Linked DNA regions of Homo sapiens. The protein of the gene in region 1 purifies or fractionates together with the protein of each later gene. This does not show direct contact. Each region holds a gene or a part of one and is shown on either strand. Other genes may lie near its edges.

The links. Proteins that work in one complex are often made in the same cells at the same time.
Region 2: the proteins of AMZ2 (region 1) and LARS2 purify together in Homo sapiens (co-immunoprecipitation; one large-scale study listed by IntAct). This does not show direct contact.

What each region holds. Positions count from the first base shown.
Region 1 is NC_000017.11:68,250,915-68,254,380, forward strand, and holds part of AMZ2 (archaemetzincin-2), read left to right. Parts: coding exon 1-53; intron 54-135; coding exon 136-264; exon of another isoform or gene 265-473; intron 474-3,466. UniProt on the Homo sapiens protein: Probable zinc metalloprotease.
Region 2 is NC_000003.12:45,489,470-45,493,129, forward strand, and holds part of LARS2 (leucine--tRNA ligase, mitochondrial), read left to right. Parts: intron 1-2,047; coding exon 2,048-2,331; intron 2,332-3,660.

The DNA.
Region 1 (3,466 bases):
AAGATGTTCCTTTAGAGTCAATGAGAACACACACAACCTACAAATTCATGCAGGTGAATTACACGACTTTGCAATTCGAACTGAGTATATGTATATAATATACACTCATACATTTATGTATTTCTTTTTAAATAGGGGACATCCTGAAGTTCTTGAAAAAGAAGAAACCTGAAGATGCCTTCTGTGTTGTGGGAATAACAATGATTGATCTTTACCCAAGAGACTCGTGGAATTTTGTCTTTGGACAGGCCTCTTTGACAGATGGTATTCCGTTTTTGGCATTGTTGTTAGAAGCTTCTTCAGCTTGAGAATATTTGAAGATGTTAGAAGAGGGAAAAAATTCCAACCAAGAATCATATTGATATTTAAAATATTTTCAGTTGAGACATTATGCCATAATGGGAAGTGTGCTGTTGGTAGATTGTGATAATCTAGGTTCTGGTTGGCCACTCACTACCTACAGGACCTTAAAGGTAACAATACCCACATCATGGAGTCATTTGGAGATAATTTACATAAAAGTGCCTGTACATAAAAAGTGTGGATAAGCCTGGACAACATAGACCACATGTCTACAAAAAAATAAAAATTTAAAAAACTAAATTAGCTGGGCATGGTGGCACATACCTGTAGTCCTAGCTACGCAGGAGGCTGAGGTGAGAGGATTGCTTGAGCCCAGGAGGTTGAGGCTGCAGTGAGCCATGATCGAGCCACTGCACTCCAGCCTGGGCAATAAAGTGAGACCGTGTCTCAAAAAAAAAATGTATATATAGGCCTGGCATATATATAGGCATACAGCATAACAGCTAGTAAATGTCAGTAATTCAGTAGCAAGGTGAATTAAACCAATTACAGTTTGAGCTATCAATGGATGTGAAAATCTTGCTAATTATTTTTCAATTCTTTTCATAGTCATCTTGCACAGTTAGAATAGCCATAGACTAAGTGTATGCTTCTTTCTCATCATACGACATTTGTTTTTTAATTTAAAGAGTCAAAACGTCCATCTTTGATTTGAGATATGTAATAAACCTTGACTCATTAGGAACTCTGTATGGTAATATTAGGGATGGGAAAGGTTCTGCAAACCGGTCATATTTTTAACCTTTTTTTTTTTTTGTCATCTCTCTACTTCTCCCCTCCCCTTAATTATTGTTCTTATTTCTCTAACTTCATCCCTAAGAATCCAACACAGACTTGAAAGGGAAAAGGCCCCCTAAGGGGAGTGGTTCATTAGTGTTCTGGGGATGGGGAGTAAGTACAGGGACTATCCTGAGAGTTTATGGTCTGTCTGGATGTTACATTAGCCTTAGGATTTGTGTGGGGTGGTAAGCTTTTTGGGACAAATGTTTCTACTAGAGGTGGGGGCTGTAGGGTTATAGAGCCTCTTCCCACTTACTCCTTTATTCTTTATTCTCCATTTATGTGAGGTTTCTTGTGGCCCCCATGGCCCTACCAGCATGCACTCTTGGAGACGTGGGTCACTACTTTCTTACTGATTTTGGTGGTGTGAGGTAGCTTTTTATCATAAGTTTTCTCTTTTATTATTAACCTGATAGAGATGGAAACATTGAAAAATAATTCTATCTACCTTTTATTTTTCTTTTGAGACAGAGTCTCCCTCTGTCACCCAGGCTGGAGTGCAGTGGTGTGATCATGGCTCACTGCAACCTCAACCTCCTGGGCTAAAGGGATCATCCTGCCTCAGCCTCCCGAGTAGCTGGGACCACAGGACCACCACACCCGGCTATTTTATTTTATTTTATTTTTGGCCAGATGGGATTTTTTTTGGCCAGATGGGATCTCCCTGTGTTGGTCAAGCTCATCTTGAAGTCCTGGGCTCAAGCGAGCCTCCCATCTCAGCCTCCCAAAGTGCTTTGATTACAGGTGTGAGTCACCACACCCAGCTAAAAAAATAATTTTAAAACCATATGTTCGTTTATCTAGATATTGCTAGCTAACTTATCTTATGTGTTTGAGGAGGTCAGGAAACATTTCCCCAAACTGTATTTACTTTAATTCTTTTTTTGGTAAGTTTCTTAAATATTACATGACATAAAAGATTTACATAGGAAAGTAGCAGGATTAGACAGTGACAATATCTTAACACAGTGGTCTTGTTTTCTCCGAGTTTACAAAGATTGATATTTTTAAAGTGAGACGCATTGACTACGAAAAAAATAGTCTATTTGTAGGATTATTGGAAGAAGGAAATGTCCTTGCTGAAAGTAGTGAAATATGCTCACACTTGATTGGCCAGAGGGGGTTACTTGTGATAAAGGAATAGATTTAGTGTGCTCTTAATTTCCAGAATGCTATCTTTGCTTAATTTTCAAATATCAGTCTACATTTTCTGGGTAAAGGGAGGTGAGGAAGTTTGTTTTTGAATCAAATTAGATTGGACAAATCTACTATGGGTTTATTACTTTAAAAACTGAACGAGAGACATAAATAAAAGTGATCATGTAAACAAGTCGAATTATGAAGCAGTACCCTGTAGGGTGAGTTATGTAGCAAACCGTGTTCTCTGTGCTTGCAGAGATGGTTGATATAACTCTAAATGTAACACAGGAAGTCAGTTACAAGGGTATTTATTCTGGTCACCAGACACTAGTGACAGAATAGAGTTGAGCTGTTCTTTGAAAAGGGGGTAGGGTTGGGGAAGGGGACGAGGTTATTCTGTCAAAAGCCGTGGTTTAAAGCATGGGCTTCAAGACATCAGGGGCAGTTGTCCTCAGTCAGTGCTGCGTGAGGGAAGGCCAGCAACCCCTCCAGACACACGTGTAACAGATCTGTTTAGTGTGTCCTTAAATAGTGAAATCATGACTTCCTATTGTTCATGTGATTTTTTTTTTTTTGAGACTGAGTATCACTCTATCGTCAGGCTGGAGTGCAATGGTGCGATCTTGGCTCACTGCAACTCCGCCTCATGGGTTCAAGCCATTCTCCCGCCTCAGCCTCCCTAGTAGCTGGGATTACAGGCACCTACCATCATGCCTGGCTAATTTTTTTTAGAGACAGGGTTTCACCATGTTAGCCAGGCTGGTCTTGAGCTTCTGACATCAGGTGATCCACCTGCCTCGGCCTCCCAAAGTCCTAGGATTACAATCGTGAGCCACCACGCCCAACCCATGTGGTTATTTTTTATGATTCCTTTTTGAGTACTTGATTTGGAGTACTTGCTACTTTCAGAAAAAGACTTCTTTTGTGGGAAAAGACTCTCTGAAACTTCAGTTTCTCAAGCATTTGACCTCAAGTCCATTAAGTTTTACAAGGCAAGGCAAAGTGGATAGCAGCAAAAGATTTTGATAGGGAAATCTGGGGCAAAAGTCTTCCTTTTTGGTGGCAAACCATAAGTGTATCAGATGGTGTGGACACAGTGACACAGAGATGCACTCACTGGCCAGATGGGCCAGCAGTCTCTTCTTTCTTTGGTCTTTCTTCAGGGACCTTACTCTCATTCTGT
Region 2 (3,660 bases), on another chromosome or scaffold:
GTCCCAGGTGAGACCCCAAAATTTACACTTCTAACGAGTTTCCAGATACTGCTGCTAATGCTGCTGGTCCAGGGAACACATTTTGAGAATCAAGGGCTTAGAACCTTGCCACTTAATGTCTGGTCCCTGGACCAGCAGTACTGGCATCACGTGTCTTAGATCCCACCCTAGTCTAATAAGATCCCTATATGATTTGTATGCACATTAGAAGTTTGAGAATACTGGCTTAGAGCACTCTTAAACTTAACTGCACATTGGAAACACCTGAGAGTTTTAAAATAATACTGATGCCTGGGTCTCACTCCAGATACTCCGATTTGATGGTTATTGGTGGTGAGGGGGGCATGGATCAGACATCAATAGTGTTCAGAGCTCCCTAGTTGATTCTGATGTGCAGCAGAGTCTGGGAACTACTGACTTAACATAGTGATGCCACACCTGGCCATGGCTCTGAATCACCTGGGAGGTGCTTACAGGTCCCATCTTGGCTGATCTTGATTCAGTGAGACCTGAAGATCCAAGTTTTTCAGGTTTGTGACTATCTGGCTATATTTATATCTATAGAATAAAGGAATAATGGTCAGGTTTTCTCCTTTGTAAGGAGTCCATGTTTTATAACCCCATGTTTGTGGCTTTACTTCATAAACTGCATCCCCAGACATGAGTCATGCTCTAAGATATGGACCCTTAGGCCTTTTTTTAGACCTTGTTTGAGCAGGTTTCCTGGAGGTAGAGCAGAGCGAAATCACAGTGTCTGTAAGGAGCCCCAGTTAACCCTCTACAGGGCAAGAAAGGGGACACTTGTGGCCAAAATTAGGCTTCTGAAGTGCCTAGTGAAGCATCCACTCTTTAGTACAGTACTCTGAGCATTAATTATGCTTCCTGGCTTCTTTCACACAGCTTCAGATGGTCTGTTGAAGCCTCTCCTGGCTCTAGGCTGAATATCTAGAGTAAAATAATTATTTCAATAAGTAGAAGGAGAATGGCTGGGGAAAAGCCGCTTTCATCTATGAGCTTCTGGAATGGAAAGACAGTGGTGTTAGGAGAAGACTGACTTTCAGGAGAGCTTTTTATGATTTGCATCACGACTGTGATAATGGGAGTGCAGAAAGACACTTCAGACCATTCATGAAAAGGGCTGCTTTTGATAAACATAGCTGTATTTTCTTATTCTTTATGCCTCTTGACTGTAAGCTCCTTGAGGACATGGGAAGATCATATTTATCTTTGTGGCCCCAATGGCTAGCACGAGCCCAGCACGTATAGATGCCCAGTGGGTCTTCACTGAACAAATGCGAGGGTACCCGCAATCCAGGTTGTTACCAAGCCACACTGGCTCAATTCATATAATTAGTTTGGCTCTCTGAAAAGCACCAAGTGAAAAGATAATTTCTCTTTTGTACTGTTAGTGGTCTGTCCTGCTGTCTATAAAACGGGAGCATTTAAATATAAAAAGAGTGGTCTGGTTCTTCAAGCCGAAGCCTCAGAATGTTCCTCTGCTTGCCTGAATTCCTTCTGCTTTAGGATAATATTGGATTTTTCTTTTCTGAATATTTTCCCCCCAACAGGGGAGTAGTCATTAAAAATCCATATCGTGCAGTTCTGTACTGGCAGCTAAAAGCTGATATTTGATGATCTCTGTAGGTGTCACAGGGCTCTGGTGATAAAGCAAGCCACAGAACCAGGGCCAACTTAGACACATTAGACACAGTAGACACAGTGCCTAGGGCCCACAATACTTTTAGAGGCCTCTGCAAAAGTTTTAATTTCTTTTAAAATCAGAAGAAAAAAATGAACTTTTAGGGTCAAAAGTTATATTTGTCTTTATATTGATGCAGTTGTAAAATATAATTTTTAATATTATCTGAAGGAGCAAGGAGCCTACAAAGGCAGAAGCACCTAGGGCTCATGAAAGTTATGACACAGCTCTGCACAGAACTGGTCCCTTGGGAGAGCCACACATAAACATGGCAGGACTGGTGGCAGCATCAGGGTGGTGACTGGTGCTATGCGGAGAGGAGTGAGCTTTCTTTTCTTTCCCTGTCAGTTCACAGGTATGACCCGGCAGGATGCTTTTCTAGCCCTGACTCAGAAAGCCCGGGGGAAGAGAGTGGGTGGAGACGTGACAAGTGATAAACTGAAAGACTGGCTGATTTCACGGCAGCGGTACTGGGGCACACCAATCCCCATTGTCCACTGCCCAGTCTGTGGCCCCACACCTGTGCCCCTGGAGGACTTGCCTGTGACCCTGCCCAACATCGCGTCTTTCACTGGCAAGGGAGGCCCCCCACTGGCCATGGCTTCAGAGTGGGTGAACTGCTCCTGCCCAAGGTAAGGAGCCACATCCCTGCAGTGGTGACTGTGCCTATGGCCCCATACCTGCTAGGGCTTCAGACAGCCTCCTCCCTCCTGGTGCTAACTCTGCTCCCTTTTTCCCTGACTTCCATGAGGCTGGAAAGAACACTGTGGGTCTTTGGGGCCCTTTAAGAGAAGGGTCTGGAATCTGTGGCCCTGCCTCTGCAATGGGCATCCTCCCTTCTCTGAGCTGTTGGAAGCAGCAGTGTCAGTTCAGATCTATCCCAGAAACATCTGATCCAACTGATGGAAAAGCTCTAAATTTTCCTTACAGCTTTGTAAAAAACCACTTTCCTCCATTTTGATATTCCAAAGAGCCACGTGGAGAGGGGAGAAAATGTTCTCTTCTCCACCTTGCAGTTTTCCAATATAGTGACTGTAACAACAGTGGAGATTTTATCATGAGTAGCAGAGTAGTTGCTAAGAGAGCAAGTGTGCTCAGGGCTGCATTCTTTAATATGCTGAAGCACCATGGTTCCTTTCTCCTCATTTTGGAAGTGGGATTATGTTTTTCTGTCTATTCACTGGCATGTCTCAAGCATGATTTTTAATGATGCTGTCCATATCAGCTAATTAAACAAATAGCAGATACCAAGTTCCAGTATTTTCCTTCTTCTGCGGAGAAGCCATTTTTCTCTGCCTTATAGATCATGATGAGGATATTATAAAATAATTTTGTATTCTGCCAGTATAGAGCTGAGTTACTAGGTTGACAATTAGGTAACCACGTAGTGTAATTGGAAGTCTTGAGCTGGGTGTCAAATCAGTGATGGATTCAAGTCCTGGCTCTGCCTCCTAACTAACTGTCTAGCCTTGGGAAAGTCATTTACCTTCTCTGAGCGTGAAATCCCTCATCAGGAACAAAAATAACCCCATTGAAGGGCTTTTCAGAAGACTAGAATTAACACATGTGATCCTGCACAGTGATACCTTCTAGGCCTTCAATAAATAGAAACTTTATGGCCATCCAGCCAGGGACTTGCCAGCCATCCTCCCAGGTCCTCACTGAGGCAGTTTTGAAATTCAAGGTGGAACTTGGAGGGAGGTATATAGGAAGGCCCAGACCATTTTAGGGTAGAAATGTTGGCTCCAGGAGGAAAATAGCACACCCTCTTTGTTGATAAGCGCTGACAAAGGGCTTCCCTACCAGAGATGTTGGTGGCCTGCATACAGCACAGCAGTTGTGGCCTTATTGATGAGGATAAGGTTTCCTGCTTGGCTGCAGAATTACTGGAGGGCAGAACCTAGGCCTTGGTGTTGGGCAAGGCTCCCTGGATGATCTTTTTTTTTTTTGAGATGGAGTCT